2 separate regions of the Homo sapiens genome follow, and region 1 is linked to region 2. The links come from fine-mapping of genetic effects on gene expression. A gene starts in region 2. The other region holds a variant in brackets. All regions are shown on one strand. Distances are from middle to middle. Region 1 holds the start of IPO4 (importin 4). Region 2 holds the start of CHMP4A (charged multivesicular body protein 4A).

Evidence for each region.
Region 1: its variant is fine-mapped to the expression of CHMP4A in monocytes (TOPMed, PIP 0.98).

The regions. Positions count from the first base shown.
Region 1 is chr14:24,180,581-24,188,900 of GRCh38, forward strand. It overlaps IPO4 (importin 4), which reads right to left and starts at 8,236. Exons shown (of 30, transcript NM_024658.4): 1 at 8,139-8,236; 2 at 7,972-8,058; 3 at 7,764-7,843; 4 at 7,636-7,677; 5 at 7,087-7,216; 6 at 6,820-6,999; 7 at 6,505-6,570; 8 at 6,298-6,399; 9 at 6,128-6,211; 10 at 5,707-5,871; 11 at 5,549-5,602; 12 at 5,281-5,390; 13 at 4,879-4,987; 14 at 4,603-4,732; 15 more. The coding sequence starts at 8,207. It also overlaps a transcript of REC8 not described here. RefSeq lists silencers at 7,232-7,442, 7,688-7,807. The variant T/C (reference allele first, on the strand shown) is at 4,703.
Region 2 is chr14:24,208,946-24,217,265 of GRCh38, forward strand. It overlaps CHMP4A (charged multivesicular body protein 4A), which reads right to left and starts at 4,543. Exons shown (of 6, transcript NM_014169.5): 1 at 4,464-4,543; 2 at 2,735-2,884; 3 at 2,470-2,647; 4 at 1,709-1,823; 5 at 1,403-1,538; 6 at 670-990. The coding sequence starts at 4,494. The coding sequence ends at 932. NEDD8-MDP1 (NEDD8-MDP1 readthrough) reads right to left here. Exons shown (of 7, transcript NM_001199823.3): 4 at 6,607-6,717; 5 at 5,547-5,654; 6 at 5,365-5,450; 7 at 4,998-5,206. The coding sequence ends at 5,079. MDP1 (magnesium dependent phosphatase 1) reads right to left here and starts at 7,121. Exons shown (of 6, transcript NM_138476.4): 1 at 6,974-7,121; 2 at 6,792-6,852; 3 at 6,607-6,717; 4 at 5,547-5,654; 5 at 5,365-5,450; 6 at 4,998-5,206. The coding sequence starts at 7,010. The coding sequence ends at 5,079. It overlaps NEDD8 (NEDD8 ubiquitin like modifier), which reads right to left. Exons shown (of 4, transcript NM_006156.3): 4 at 7,912-8,278. The coding sequence ends at 8,182. RefSeq lists enhancers at 3,952-4,071, 4,026-4,834, 4,262-4,761, 4,398-4,692, 5,847-6,585 and 1 more.

The DNA of each region.
Region 1 (8,320 bases), 28 kb before region 2:
AGAGGGAGGGAGAAAGGTCGGGGCTCCTAAAGCCTCGCTGCCCCAGGCTCTCTGAGCCCTGCCACTCCCAGCCTCCCGCAAGCCCCTGCCTATGACTCCTACCCTCACCTGGTGGGATCTTGTTGTCAGCCAGAATGAGGCTGCAGATACGCAGAAGCTCGGGAGCCACATCTATAACCTGTGAGGAAAGAGTGGCTGACTCAGGGCAGCAGCCCCAGACCCCAGGTCTAGGAGGGTGGTCAGGACCAAGGAGTGGCAGAATCTCTTATCAGGGGGGTGGTTGCACCTGGTACTGATTCACAGGCATCCAAGACAACTATGAACATGAGAAGAACCAATGAAACTTGGTGCTAATGATTTTTTTTGGAGGGAATGGGGGATGTGGGACAAGATGATTAAAGTCATAGCCTCAAGACCTAAAGAAACCCAGACACTCAGGAGCTTCACCTACACAACAGTCTCTAAAGGTATAAGACAAGGGTGACACAAACACTCTGACATGACTCCAAACCTAGCTACTTGGTACAGGCAAAATCTCTTCAGAGAGCAGAGCTGATCTGATTGAAATGTATGGTGTGGTGGCCCAGAGGTACCCTGGGCTCCACAGAGCACAGTTTGAAAGGGCCCCGGTTTAGGAAACCAGCCTAGGAAAACTGCAACTTCTGGCTCAGACCAAAGGGTAGAAATGGAGCTTCCTCAGGAAAAATGCTACGTGGAGAAAGGAAGTCCCTCCTGTCCCATCACAGGACTGGCTGCCAATCCTTGCAGACAAATAAGAAATGGTGCAGGGAGTACCAAAAGAACAGCTGAAACTGTCACCTTGCATCAGGTGCAACTGACAGCCTGGAGCTCCCGAGCCTCATCAGCAGACAGTGCCTATCACTGAGTGGAGCGGCACGTTCCCCTCTGAGGGCTGCCAGCAGCAAGGTTACCTGGTCAGGGCTGCTCTGGTACAGGAAGCTGAAGAGGCGCCCAATGGTGACCCACTCCTCCAAGTCCTCCTTCAGTGGCAGGGCATGCAGTAGGGCAGCCAGCACCTGGGCACACAAATGTCTCAGGCCAACCTGCCCTGCCCTCCACCACCCTCCCTCCTCAGCTTCCAAGCCCTGCCTGATGTCTCCCTCCCTCACCTGGGGCTCTGGTTTCCTGGTGGGACTGGCCATCAACAGGCGGGCAAGTGCCCCACAGATGTTGTCACGGACACGATCATGTCGCTCCCGCGCCAGGAGGGGAAAAAGGAGCCCCAGCAGCTTGGGGAAGTGTCTGGTCCACAGTCAAGGAATGGCCACACGCTCAGGTAGACCTTGCCCACCTGCAAGCCCTGGGGACACTCCCCCAACCTCCAGTCCCTCCCGTCCTGCGAGCCAAGGATACTCCTGGGCAGGGTGGCCCCCATGCTCTGCCAGCACGCCCATCCCGAAGATGGCATTGCTTCGCACCTCGGGGTCTGCCTCTTGGGCGGTGCTCAACAGCACAGGGAGCAGCCGAGACACAAACTGGGCTGAGGCAGCACCCAGGCCCTGAATAGTCTCTGCCAAGGTCCCCACTGCAAAGGACTTCTCTGCCACTGTGCAGCCCTGTTTCTGATGGGGGAGAACAGGAAGGAGTACAGATCAGCCTGGGCCAAGGATAAAGGCTGTGGTGGGCACCGGGTGCACGAGGGGACTAGGGCTTGAAGCCAGAAGATGGACACTCACTGTCTTGCACACCAATAATGGCAGGAAACCGGCAAAGAATGGGGCAAAGGAGTCTCCCCCAGCCGCGGCTGCCAGGGCAGGGATGGCCTCTCCAGCGTGCTCCAGCAACATGGCGTCGTATTCAGCCTGTGGAGCCAGGTCAGGGGCTGGAGCACCAGGGCCAGCTCAGTGACTGTACACCTCCCTCCCACGCTCTGCCACCAGCTGCAGGGGTCCCTGGGGCTGCCCTTGGTTGATAGGGCTGGCCCCTCTCAAGCTGGGTGTTTCCATGACCCAGCTTCTTCCCCTGGCTCTTCTGCTCCTACCTATCACTCCAAGCACACCCCAGTCCACACTGCTCTCCTTCCCTGAACTCCCACTGGCTTAGTGGGATCAGGGTTGTATCCCTCTGGCCATTACCAGTCTCTTTTAGTGGCCCTGGCTGCCCCAGGCCAAGCCCAAATACACTGTCCACCCCTGTCCCTGTGGAGACTGCCTGGACCGCCTGGTCCCCGTTTTTATCCCTGGCTCTCACCTGATCATCATCTTCCTCTTCCTCCTCCTCGTCAGTATCCTGACAGGCTGTCTACAAGAAGTAGCTCAACTTAGCGGAGCTTTCACGCCCCTTCTCTTTTCATGGGGGTAGGGGGTGGACTTGTAGCCAGTCCCCAACCGAGGCCCAGCACCTCTCCTTCCCGAAGCCCACCTGCCCTGCTCACCTTCCTCTGCAGCACAGCCTTGAGCACGCCACAGAGCTCAGCGAGGCGCCCAGGGGGCTTCAGTGTGAGGGTCCCACAGCTGCGGAGCACCCCTGTCAGGGCCTCCAGCACGGCCATCACCACCTGGCGTTCCCGCTCCCTGTTCACTGCCTGCATGTAGGATGGCACGACTCGGGCCAGGGCAGCCTGCAAAGCTGGGGACATTATTGGCTGAAGCACCAGTCAGGCCCTGCCCCTCCCCAAGAACCCCCAGCCTGGCCCAGCCTCTCCTCACCAGCAGTGTTGGGTTCCGAGGGGCAGCTTTGACAGGCCTTGTGCAGTGCACAGCAAAACTGACCCAGAGCCTCATGGGCTGCCTTCCGCACATTCAGGTGAGGGCACTGCAGGATGAGGAGGGGCGGGATATGTCTGCTATGTGCACCGTGAACACAGGGCCCCCAGCCTGAGAACCCCACCCACTCCACCCGCCGGCCCGCTCACCTCCAGCAGTTTAAATACTTCTTCAAAGACACTTTCCATGTATGGAAGGAAGGCCACACTACAGAGAGAGACACAGCCGTGGGTAAGGGGCCCCCAGGCAGGGTTTTCAGTGCCAGGGAAGGGCGAATGCTCACCTGGTGTTCACAGAGATCTCCCCCACGGCAGCACAGGTGTCTTCCTTCTCATCGAAGAAGGCATTCTCCACGCTGTACCTAGAGTAAGAAGGGGAGGCAGTGGTGATCAGGCACCAAGAGGAGCAGATCCAGCACTAGGCCCTTGTCTAAAGCCAAAGTCTAGATTCCTGATCAGAAGAGCACCCCTCCGCACCCTGAGATCTCTGAGTCATCCTCTTCTTCCACATCCTCATCCATGAGCTCCTCCTCTTCTTCCCCATCACTCTCATCGTCAAACAGAAGGAAGGAGCTGCTCCCGTCATACTGAGGCTGGAGCGGAGGCACGGCAAGGACTTTGGCTCAGCTGGGCCCAGGAGATAAATCCCATTGCAGGGCAGGCCTGGCCCAGCCCACCCACCCTTTGCTCACCACAATGCCCTCGGTGGAACGCAGTGACAGCAGCATGAGCGTGGTGATCTGTTCCAAGTGGGGCGCCAGGCCCTCACCCATCAGACCCGATAAGGCTGCAAATAGGCTGTACCTGGTCAAAGCAGGCAGAAGAAGCTGTAAGGTCCTGCCTGCTACCACCAGGCAGGATGGGGGAGCCCGGGAACACCTGGCTATGGTCCAAACCAGACGACTGGAGTCTGGGGTGGGGATTCCAGTGGGTCCAGTGGGAAGACAGGAGGGGAGGGGACAAGGGCAGAGGCAGGGTGAGGGGTCACTCACGTGCAGCGCCGCAAGTCAGGGTCGTCTACCTGGTCGCAGAGGCCCAGACCCAGCTGGCAGCATTCCTCAGCCAGCGGCCTCATGGGCTCCCCCACTGCTCGTGCCAGCACCCCCAGTGTCTCTGTGGGGGCAAGGGCTCCATTAGCACCAGGAGGTGGAGGTGGGCTACGGGACCAAAGGTGGTGGCTGGGAGGGATTCAGAAATCCCGCCCCACCCCTTGGTACAGCATGAAGCACACCCCTTTGATGAGAAGGAAGACATCCGTGCTCCTGTGGGGGCAATCTGTCAACACCAGGTGAGCACCAGCCCTTTGCTGGCACTGGGAGCCCCACCTGGGAACCTCTCACTCACCCAGGCTCTGGATCTGCACAGGCTGAAGGTCCTCACGGCCTGTTAACAGGAATTCCCGCAGGTGCTCCATGATGGCAGGGAAGTAGGGCAGCAGCGAGGCCTGGGCAGCCGTAGCTGCAGGATGGAAGGACAGAATCAGAGCTGGAGAGGGCAGGGACCACCAGCCACAGGGCCTTTGGGTGAACCCCACATCCCTGCCTCCTGCCTCTCTCCTCACCAATGGCTCCCAGGGCGCTCACAGCCAGCTCCTTGGCCCGGGGACTGCTGGGGTTCCTCAGAAGCTGCAGCATGCATTCCATAAGCTCCGGAAGGTAGGGCTGCACCTTGGGCCCTGTGGGAAAGGATGCTCCTCTACCAACCAACCCAGGTCTGCTACCTGCACGCCCACCTCCCTCCAGGCGGAAACCTTTTTTTGGCACCATCACACCCTTTCCCCTACCACAGGCAGCAATGCAGGGAGATGCACATCCTGTACATTCAGCCAAAGCCGCCGCCTCATCCCCCTTCCCCAAGCTCCCCACTGCCATCACTACCTAGGTTCTCCACAAAATTCTCCAGGGCATAGCAGGCCTTGGCTAGGTGGTGTGTGTGTCCAAGAGGCACCGACTTCAAGTAGGCGAGGAGCAGTGGCAT[T/C]ACCTCCCTTGAATAGCTGCTGATATGGGGCTGGGGGAGGGAGCAAGCAGGGCCTGAGTCAGGTTCACCTGCCGGGCACACACAAGAGTGCTGATGGCAGCAGGGATGCTTGAAGAGATGAAAGATGAGGGGAAGGGGACATTCAAGTGGTGGCTCCCACATTCAGCCTGGTTCACCTGTAGGTTTTCTGAGAACTGGCCCAGGGCAAACAGCGCAGCATTGCGTACAACTTGCGAGGGGTCCTCCAGGCCCTTGCACACAATCTGCAGCAGTGGGGGCAGCAGTCTGGATGGGGCAAACAAGAGGACATAGGCTGAGAAGCTACACCTGAGAGCCCTAGGCTGACCTGTTCTCTTCATTTTCCCTGGAAAAACCAAGGCTTTTCCTGTCACCAGAGGGTGGGCAGCAGCCCCTGGTCCCTATAGCTGGTAAGCCATGTCATTTATCTTCCAAGCCAGGACACTTTTGATAATGGGGGGAAACGCTGTTGATAAATAAGCTTGAACAACAAGCGTAAACCAGGACAGCCATGGTCCTCCCTGTGGGCAACCCTCACCCTGGGACAGGGGAATACATACCTCTGCCTGATGTGGTCGCCAGCTCCGTCAGACAGCACGGCCAGCACCAGGAGTCCAGCTTTGCGCTGGTATGGGCTCTCGCTCCGCAAAGCCTCTTCCAACATGGGCATCTAGGGAAGCATGTGGCACGCTTCTGAAACCCCAGCAAGAGCCTGCCCATTCCTGTGGTAATAGGCCTTCACACCTCCCAGGGTCTAAACGTCGTTGGCCTCAGGGGGACTAGGCACACTTGGAGGTAGGGACACCAGAAGGACAGAGCCACACTTACCAGCTGGGGACAGAGCTTCTCGGGGGGCAGGTGTAGTGCCAGCATGTCCACAACCTGAGATGGGATGGGGAGACTTACTTTGCTTGACTCCATCTCTGCCTCCCCAACGTCCCACAGCCACCTAACACCTTCCCCCTCTGTCCTGCCCCACATCTCACTTGTACAGCGAAATGCTTGGGAGTCTCCCCCATCAGCTCAATCTCCAACTCTTCCTCTTCTGAATCCTGGTCCTCGGGATCCAACTGGCCTGGTGGGGGCTCAGCAGCCACAATGGGGAAAAGGGTGTGCAGCAAGGGTGGCAGGAGACGATTCTTCAGTAAGGCCTTGACAGAGAAGGTGGAACAGTGTCCCTAAGAATCTGCTCCCAGGATGGGCTCACATTAAAAATTCCAGTCTTCCAGGCCATAAGGGGTCTGACAGAAAATTCCCAACCTCCCAGGCAGGAGCTGGGGTGAGGCCAGGCCAAGGCTTGAACCCCCACAGTACTTTAGATACCCTGAGATGGACCGAAAGCCCCAGGAGTGAGACTAAGGGTGGAGATGGGGGTGGGGTGATGTGTGTCAATGGGCACTCACTTACCTTGCTCTTGACTTTGACCAAGAAAGTGAGGCAGCAGAGAATACGTATGCGTATCGCATTGCCCAGGGCCACATTTCTAGCTACCTGTCCACAGAATAATAAAAATCAGCGACAGGGAAGGAGAGTCCCAGCAGAGCATGTAGCAGGGGCCATGTCCACTCCAGGCTCACCTCCAGGCAGAATGTGAGGACTTCAGAGAGGTAGGGGGTGATGACCGGCACCTCTGACTCCAACAGTTCATCCAAAGCCTCAAGGGCCTCACAGGCCTTTGCCTGACAGACAAACAAGGCACAAGGTTACCATGCTCTTCTTCAGTGGGCCAAACTGGACACTTCTGCACTCTCCTTCCAACAGAGCTCCTGCCCACCTGTCCTCACCTCATCTATGGGGATCAGAGTCTGCATGGCCATGATCAGCTTGGGCACCAACATCCGAGCGAGAGGCTGAGGGACACATCACAGAGAGCATGATGCAGCCCAATCTCACACCCCAGCAGCTGGCAGCTTCCTCACAGCCTGAATTGCGAGGAGGAGCCCAGGCATAACAGCCAGGCCCACCTACAGCATCCCCTCTCAATTGTCAGGAAGGGCCACAGGCAGGTAAAGAATCCAAAGCAGCTTTGTAACTTTTACGGGTGAGGACATGAAGGCATGAGGAAAGGGAGTCAAAGATAACGAGGGCCCACATCTCACCACATCTTCAGTGCTGAGGTAGGGAGCCATGGTGGTCAGAGTGCGCAGGGAGTAGAAGAGCAGCCCAGGAGAGCCCACCTCACCAAGAGTCTCATTCAGAAGCCGAAGAAGCTCCCGGTGGTGGGGTTGGAAGGCCTCGGGCCGGGAGGTCACCACCACACTTAGCAGCAAAAGCCCCATCTGTCCAAGAATAGAGGATGGGAGAGCAAGCTTACAAGGTCTATCCAGCCTCTCAGGCCCTCCCTCCTGCCAACCATGTGATGGTACCTCTCTCTCTGGGCTGTGGGGGCTGTGGGTACTGTGCTGAAGCAGCTGCAAAAGCTGTGGCCAGGCCTCCAAGCCTTCCTTTCGAAAAATGGTGGCTGAGAGCTGGGCCAGGCTGAGGCTCACACAGTGCCTGCAAACAGGAGAGATCTCCTCCAATCACCCTTCAATACCTTCCTCTGCACACAGTGGCCAGGCTCAATGGGGCAGCCAGGACAGAAACTTTCAGGAGGTGTGGGCACAGGGTCTTTGCCAAGTTGGGACACATGAGACAGCAGCTCAGAGGGAGCCCAACAGCACTGTGGGCATGTAATCTGGTAAGTTCAGTCTAACTTAGCCTGAATTTCAGTCTTATTCTTCTGACTTGGGTTTGGCAGATCATCATCACCCTTCCTCAAGAACTTTAGTCTTCAAAACAGCCTTAAAATCCTCACTCCACCTTGCGTCTAGAACTGAAGTCCCTGCCCCACAAGTCCCAGCCTGGAGCCGAAAAGGAAGGCAGAAACCTAGACAAAGTCGTCAAGATCCCGAGAGAAGTGGGTAGGTACTTACTCTGTTTCTCTCTGCAGGGCCGTCAGGATCAGGGACTTGAGGCTGGAACACAGGTGGCAGGTGTTTGGTACCCAGCCTGCCCAAGAAAAGTCTCCGCCTGGCCCCGCCCCACCCCAGGCCCAGCCCACCTCTCCCGTTGCTCCGCCGCCAGCCGTCGCCAGCGGGTGTTCAGTCGTCTGCGGGTCAGCACGGCCGCAAACTGGCGGATCTAGGACGAGGAAGCAAGCACGTGGGGGTCCGGGCAGGAAGGTGCTGAGCGGACCGCAGTGGGCGAATACTGGGGCTTGACCGGTGGCGTACAGTGGGAAGCTCGGAGGGGAGAGTCAGGGGTCTCACCTGGGGGTCGGCCGCCGAGGCTAGCAGGTCGCAGAGAGCCGGCAAAGCGGCGGGGGCCCGAAGAACGATCTGGAGCTGTTCCGTGGCCTGGGGGGAAGCTAGGGGTGAGAGTTGGGCCTTTCCCGCAACCTCCCGCTCGCCCTGGCCCGGTTACGCCTGCTCCGTACCCGACGGATGCGCTCGGTGTCCGGTAGCAGCAGCTCCCGTAGGAGCTGCTCTAGCCCGGCTGACTCCATGGCAGCAACTGAGCCGCCGCTACTGGGCCGAAAAGGGGAGGGGGAGGGACAGCACGTGGAGGTTCTGACACCCACTTCCGGAGGAAAGGGCGTTGCTGCACGCCCCGCGGGTT
Region 2 (8,320 bases):
TACTGACACAATAGCAGGGAGACAAGGCTTCTCACACAATTGTTCCCAGACACAGAATTCAAACCAAGCCTTCTAGTAGTGAAAGCTACTAACTATGGGTTCTGGATAAAGGAAAGCTACTTGCTCCTTCCATTCCAAGTAGCAAAGCTACTTGCTCCTTCCATTCCAAGTAGCAAAGCTACTTGCTCCTTCCATTCCAAGTAGCAAAGCTACTTGCTCCTTCCATTCCAAGTAGCAAAGCTACTTGCTCCTTCCATTCCAAGTAGCAAAGCTACTTGCTCCTTCCATTCCAAGTAGCAAAGCTACTTGCTCCTTCCATGGTATTCTCCCTCCTTGTCCTTGAAAATGGGCTTTGTAAAAGAAATTTGGGGCTGTCTTGGCAGAGGCACGACCAGGGGAAAGCAATGAGGGAAGACTCAGAGATGCCTCCACGTGGTTCTAAGTGGTAGATGGCAGTTTCTTCAGCCTCAGCAACTAGGCAACTCTAGGACAAACCGGCTTGAAAGATGAAATAATGTTTGCCTGGAACATAGGTTGAGATACTAGGAATGCCCATTTGTTCTATGTTCCAACCCCCCTTCTTTGCTCTAATTATTCATTGCTTGAAATAAGGCTCCAAGGGCCAGGGGAACAGCTTCAGGGGTAGACAAGGCAGTATAGACACTAGGATTCCATCTGCCCAGTTTTATTGGGAACAAGGGCATTATAACTGCTATCAAAGAGAAGGGAGCCCAAGGGCTCCTTCTGTAGCAAGATCCTTCTTCAGAGTTGAGCCAGGGCTGGGAGGGTAAGAGACCCTTTTTTCAGGCAGGGTCACACTACCACCCTCAGCATGACTTCCCCAAAAAGTTATCCTCCTTTAGCTCAGCACTTGGCACTTAAGGAAGAAAGGACCAACAAAGGTAGCATTAGGAAGACAAGCCCAGATTTATCAGGATACCCACTCAGCCAACTGCTTTAGTGCTTCTTCATCTTCATCCACTTTGGGAGCTTTGAGGACAAAGATACCCAGAGAAAAGAAAGGAGAAGCAGTAAGGTCTCAGCAACTCCAACCATCCCCTGCTATGACATTCAGAGCCTGCTGAATTCTGTCTCCCCAGCAAAAAACCTAAAGGTATGGTCCTTCTGCTTGCTAGGCTGCTGTTCAATCCCACAGCACCTTTGTGCAAATTAGAAAAATGGTGCCTCTTGCTCCTGCCATTTGCAGCCCTAAACCAGGGTACACGGCTTGTTGAGTGAAGCACAGGCTAGGTGGGTGCCTATATGCAGTCAACAACCTGCACAACTGCAGCAGCAGCCCTTTCTGTGTGGCTCCTTTGAGGCAGGATGGATGAGGAATAATCTTTCCCCATATCTCTCCCACCCTCTTAAGTCCTCAAGACAACAGAACAACCCTGCATACCTGGCCCTGCCGGCAGATGAGTAGAAGGTACACTAGGCAATTTGACTGAGGGTTCTTCTTCCTTGTCGCCCACATTTAACAACTCCTGGGCCAATTCCTCCTGCTCCAGCTCCTCTAGCTCCTCCAGCAGTTCATCCTGGATAGGGAAGACAAGACCACTTTAGATGAAGAAAAAAACTTCTACCTCCAAAAACATACCACTTTTGAAGTTCCCTCCCAAACTTGTCCCAAGAGCCTCTCTTGGGTGTTCCTTCTGGCCAGTCCCATACTTTCTGCAATATTCCCTGACCCTTCACCCCCAATCACCTCATCCACATCATCTCCAAAGCCCATAGGCCGAGAAATGGCATCTGAGATCTGCTGGGCCACCTCCTGTTGTTCCGTGATGTCAGTCATCAGTTCATCTACCTTGTCAATGTCCCTGAGAATGAGATAGATAGCTAAGAAATCACGCAACAATGCCCCCTTGACTTTCTCATCTCACATGAATGAAACCCCTCCTGCCTTGCAGGGTCACACTGATAAGCCCATAACTATCAATCAGAAGAGATCCCTGGAAAATTGCAAAGATGCAAGTTGTGATCCCAGCACTTTGGGAGGCCAAGGCAGGTGGATCACCTGAGGTCAGGAGTTCAAGACCAGCCTGGCCAAAATGGCAAAACTCCATCTCTACTAAAAATACAAAAATGAGCTGGGCACAGTAGTGCACACCTGTAATCCCAGCTACTCAGGAGGCTGAGGCAGGAGAATCACTTGAACCCAGGAGGCGGAGGTTGCAGTGAGCCGAGATTGTGCCACTGCACTCCAGCCTGGGCGACAGAGCAAGACTCCATCTCAAAAAACAAAACAAAACAAAACAAAAAAAGAATTAGAGAAGGCATCTTTCCTCCCTAGAATGCCCCAGGCAGCGAAAGAATTTTATAGGAAGCAAGGGGCAGATGGATGTCTAGCCATCACAAGTATCTATACTGCAAATTCACATTCTGAGAGGCTTTAAAGTTTAAAGTGTGATAGCAAGCCACTCTTCCCAGTGCCTGGGTCCCCTCCACCCCTCCCCCCGTACCCACATGTCCTGGTAGGCCTTCTTCATGCTTTGGGCAGCAAGCTCCATGGTACGAAGGACTTCTGCATTGGTAGTGGCATTCTCAATGGCCTCACGCTGAAACTCCAGGGTGGATAATGTCCCGTCAGTTTGTGCCAGCTGCTGTTCGAATCTTTTCTTCCTCCGCAAAGCCTGTAGGGCAGCTGACCCAGCCCATACCCTGAACATCAAGAGTCAGAAGCACCTGCTTCCCATCTGGGCCCTCCCCATAGGCTTGTTTCCCTCATTACCTCTCTTATTCTTGGTCCCATACTTCTTGGCTGTTTGTAGCTCCTGTTGAATCTTCTGCTCCAAAAATTCCTGTTTCTTGATCAGTATCTTCTCTGTCTCCTTCAGTTTCTGTATTGCTTCTTCAGGGGTTGGCCCTTTCTCCTTCTTCCCTGAGGAGTCCAGTGGAGTAGGCCCAAATTTTGTGAAGGAAAAATATTAGCCACCAATCATTGAATACATAGTATGTGCTAGAGACCTGACTGTGTTATTGCTAATCCCCAAATCTCTACAATGAACGTGCTATCTCTTCACTTTAAAAATGTGAAAACAACCACAAAGATGTTAAAAATCACAACTAATAAGAGATTGTGCAGGAATCAAGATGTGGCAGTATGAGTTCTAAAACCAATATTCTTTTTACTATTCCTAGCTGCCTTTCTTTTTTTTTCTTTAGGCAGAGTTTCAGTCTTGTTGCCCAGGCTGGAACGCAATGGCGTGATCTCAGCTCACCTCAACCTCCGCCTCCTGGGTTCAAGCAATTCTCCTGCCTCAGCCTCCCAAATAGCTGGGATCACAGGCATGTGCCACCATGCCTGGCTAATTTTTTGTGTTTTTAGTACAGACAGGCTTTCTCCATGTTGGTCAGGCTGGTGTCGAACTCCCAACCTCAGGTGATCTGCCCGCCTCGGCCTCCCAAAGTGTTTTGATTACAGGCATGAGCCACCGCGCCAGGACTTCTTTTTTTGAGACAGAGTCTCGCTCTGTTGCCCAGGCCAGAGTGCAGTGGCATGATCTCAGCTCATTGCAACCTCCGTCTCCCGGGTTCAAGTGATTCTCCTGCCTCAGCCTCCCTGAGTAGCTGGGACTACAGGCACACACCATCATGCCCACCTAATTTTTTTTTTTTTTTTTGAGAATGGAGTCTCCCTCTGTCACCAAGGCTGGAGTGCATTGGTGCAATCTTGGCTCACTACAACCTCCGCCTCCTGGGTTCAAGCGATTCACCTGTCTCAGCCTCCCCCAGTAGCTGGGACTACAGGCGCGTGCCACCACAACCAGCTAATTTTTTTTTTTTTTTTGTATTTTTAGTAGAGACAAGGTTTCACCATGTTGTCCAGGCTGGTCTCGAACTCTTGACCTCAGGTGATCCACCCACCTCGGCCTCCCAAAGTGCTGGGATTACAGGCGTGAGCCACCGCGCCCGGCCAATTTTTATATTTTTAGTAGAGACGGGGTTTCACCATATTGGCCAGGCTGATCTCAAACTCCTGACCTCATGATCCACCCACGTCGGCCTCCCAAAGTGTTGCGAGTACAGGCGTGAGCCCCCGCGCCGGGCTAAGAAGGCAGTCTTTCTTCTTCACCTTAGATCCCTCTTGCCCAGCACAAAGTATTATAGAACAAGGTTTTGAAAATGGCTGAAGACAGCAGGAAACTCGTCTTCAAGCCTGAACAGTGGGAGTCAGCACGATCGCCACGCCCTCAACTCAAGTCCCCTCCCAGATCTTGAGTTCTTCCCTCTGAGAGTGGGGGAGGACGGCGGACGGGAACAAGGCGCCCCGACATGGTGTGCCTTTTGGCACCGGCGATGAGCCTTGCTCCGCCATCGGCCGCCGGGGTTTTCCAGTCAGCCTGTCTCCTGATTCTCTTCCCCTGCCCGGCGCAGCGGTCCGGCCGAATCTCGCCGGGGTCTCCTCTTCCCCTGCACCAGCCAGCGCCTCCTGGCTGGCCAGTCCCACCCTGGCTCACCCTTCCCGAAGAGCCTGCCGAGACCACTCATCGCGAGCTCGCCTCTCCCGCCTCCGCCCCTCAGCGTCCTCCAGACTTCCGCCTTGCTCCTGGGAGGGTGATGTCTCATCACACAGGGACCAGCCTTGCCCAATCCGTCCTCAGGGCGCCGCCGCGACATCAAGAGGCGCAAACGAGACCACCGGTGTCACGTGACCCAAGCCACCAGCCCCAGACCGACGCGCTCCTCTTAAAGCTGCCACATCATTTTCTATTAAGTAAAAAGACAGTTCTATCTCCACCTGAGTACGTGCTTGTTCTCCGGAAGGAAATGTGCAGTGTGATGGCACCTCAGTGTATGGGGTCAGTGGGAAAACTTCATGCTCTTTACAGAGCTCAGGAAAGTGGGGTGGTATAGGTTCAAGCACTTGGGGTTGCCCTAAGTTTAGATGGCAAACCTGATGCAGTCTAATGTCTCACATTCTGGTCTCTGCACCTCAGGACAACCAACCCCATTTCACAGGCTAGAAAAATAGAAACTCCCCACACTGTGGGTAAAATCTCTTCTGTCACACACAGATGAACTTTAATAAATTACAAATGCACCTGAAAATGCCTTCTTGATTTCCTTTCAGTTTAGGCCTCAAATGGGCTCTCCTCAAGGCTGGACCTCAAAGGCCCAGTTTGGGCCTTCGCAAATGTCTCTAACCCTTGACTTAGAGTTTGAAGATTCATTCCATTCTGGATGTGAATGCAGGTAACACCTAGAAAGATAAGAAGTCACATTTCATTAAGCTTTCAGGGTTCTCCATTATTACTCTGACCTTTGTGAGTGCCACCTATAGGGCAAACTATCCAACCTGTATGTATCTACCTAATCCCTCCTAGGGACCCCAAATGGCTGTTCCTCATCACTCAGTACCCAGTTTGCTGACGTCTACAATATTCCGCCTCTCATCATCAAAGAAGATCATCTGGGAGAAAGGAATTCCAGTCTTCTGCTGCAACCTATTCAAGACAGGGCAGGAGTAACCAAGCTAGTATCTTGGTTTCCCAGGCCTCTCTGATACTTTCTCACCCTGCTCCTCCCTTATCTCCGCATACCTCTCAAAGTGTGTGATCTTGCTGCCTGGATAGATTTCCCGATGAACAAAGTACCTGAAGAGGTCAAAGAGCTCCAGTAGCTGGTTGGCCCCTTCTATCTCACTTGTCCTGCAAAACGGTGTAAAAGATGGGATTAGCAAAGTGAAGGGCCAGGGCTACGTTAACTTATTAAGCAAAGTTAGTAAGTATAACCAGGGAAATCAACTTGCTGTTTTTCCGGGATGGACAGGCATCCTCAGCCTCTGTTTAACTCCATTGCCTTCCTATTTGACACAATTGGTGCTGGGCCAATGTTTTAGCTTTTGTTTTGAGACAGGGTCTAGCTCTGTTGCCCAGACTGGAGTGCAGCGACCCAATCACGGCTCACTGTGGTCACGACCTCCTGGGCTCAAGTGATCCTCCCACCTCAGCCTCCCAAGTAGCTGGGACTACAGGTGCACGCCACTACAATTTTTTTTTTTTTTTTGGTAGAGATAGGGTCTCCCTCTATTGCCTAGGCTGGTCTCAAATTCCTGGGCTCAAGTGATCCTCCCACCTAGGCCTCCCAAAATGCTAAGATTACAGGTGTGAGTCACTGTGTCTGGCCCCACTTTTTTTTTTTTTTTTTTTTTTGAGACATTGTCTCACTCTGTCACCCAGGCTGAAGTGCAGTGGCTCCATCTCAGCTCACTGCAACCTCCGCCTCCCGGGTTCAAGCGATTCTCCTGCCTCAGCCTCCCGAGTAGCTAGGATTACAGGTGCGTGCCACCACGCCCTGCTAATTTTTGTATTTTTAGTAGAGACGGGGTTTCACCATGTTGATCAGGCTGGTCTTGAACTCCCGATCTCGTGATCCACCCGCCTCGGCCTCCCAAAGTGCTGGGATTACAGACGTGAGCCACCGCGCCCGCCTGCTGGCCCCACTTTTTAATAGTTAAAAGGCACAGGAGAGCGTTCAAGGGAAAAAATATGTAAATACTTGGAAACTTGCACCGCCCCTATTTTTGTAGACCAGGGGTTTCACTGTCTCTTGCATGCACCCTTCAGCATTACACTGTCAGTTGTCAGTCGCTCTTCTTACCTTGAAGCAGCCGCACCGGGCACCCCAAGGCTCTGCAATCGTTTTAGGACCTCAGGCACCTCTGGGTACAGTCGGACGTCTTGGCCCCGCCTATCTCGTACAGTTCCATCACTGGAGAGGGCAAGAGTGCGCTCAGCCCTGGCTGGGTCCTATCTCGCCCCCAGTCTTCCCTGTCCCTACCTCACCTGCTCTTATGGAACGGAGGGTCTACGTGCGTGTCGACCCAGAAAGGCCAGAGAGTGTAATCTGCGAGAGGAAGGAGAGGGAAGGTTCAGCCTGGGGCGGGAGATGCAGGGATTCGGGAGCTGCTGTTAGGGATGTGGAAAAGGAGAGCACCTTACGAAATTCTCCCCTTCCCGTCCCTCACCCAAATCAAAGACTGCCAGCTTCGGTAGCCGCGCCATGACCCGCACCGCAGGCTGCGCGCAGCAGAGGTGGGGCTTCACCCGGGGCCTTAGAGAGTGCGGAACCTCCGGCAGCTAAGGCAGCCACCCTGCCTGCCATAGACAAATGGCGACTAGAGCGTCGCCACTCGGGGCGTCATCAGCCTGGAGATGGCGCAAGAGTGCCATCTGATGCTGGGCGGGGAAGAGGATTGCAGCGAGGTACCAACACGACCACACATGCAACCACAGCAGTCAAGTCTTTCTAAGGCATTGGCCACGGGCATCCTCCCTACTTCTCCACTCCACCCAGCCTTGCCCGATTCTATTATACTAAGAAGCCAGGGAAGAAGGAAAGCCTTTTCTTCTAGCACCTGCCTCTTCTTGAGACCCAAGTGATACATCACAGCTTGTCACTCAATCTTTCTGCATTATCAACCTCCTGACAGTGTAGAACCCAAAGTCCTCAGTAATATTCCAGCCATAGAGTACAGTGTCAGCCAAACCCTTGAAGGCGTTCTCCAACCAGGCCTAAATGTCCAGTACAGCCACAGTCAAGAGAGAATTCACTCTCCGAAGGTTTCACCATCCATGTCAGCACTACACTGGTAGATGTATAACAACCAGTTTGTGGGGAGGAACTGATCTGTAGTGTTTGCTAGTTTCTGTAAATAATCCTACCATGGCCAATTTCAAGCTACCAACATGAAGTCACTTAATAGAGTTGGAAAAAGGTGCCAATAATTGGCTCTCATTAGCCACTAGGAACTGGTTCCAACACACCACTAAGTAGGTTTTCCTAGAGTCTGATAATCCCCGTAAGAGCACCATTCCTTCCACTGTCCGATTCCTTCAGCCTGCTATAACTGAGTGAGCATTAGGTCCATTTTTATTTCAGTCAACTTGTGCAACAGAAGAAAGATTCCAGGAGGCCAGGAAATATTTTATTGACAACCAGGGACACAGTCATAAGAGAGGGAAGCACACAGGACTGCAAACTAACACCCAGTAGCCAGCAAGGGCCCTCTGGGCCAGGAATACTGAATCCTGGGATCCTCACAGTCTCCCACCAGTAGACATACATTACTGGGCATCCAGGGGAGGGGGCAGTGGCTATGGTGTCCCAGAGAGTGAGAGGATATATGATGCCTCATTATGAGCGACAGGGTAAAGAGGTAAAATGGAGGGTCCATCACTGCCTAAGACCACCTCCTCCTCTCAGAGCCAACACCAGGTGAAGGACTGAACCACCTAAAATCTTGTAATCAGCTGCTGTCTTCTCATCATTCCTGCAGGAAAAGGAAGCCAGAAAAAAAAGAAAAAGAAGACTT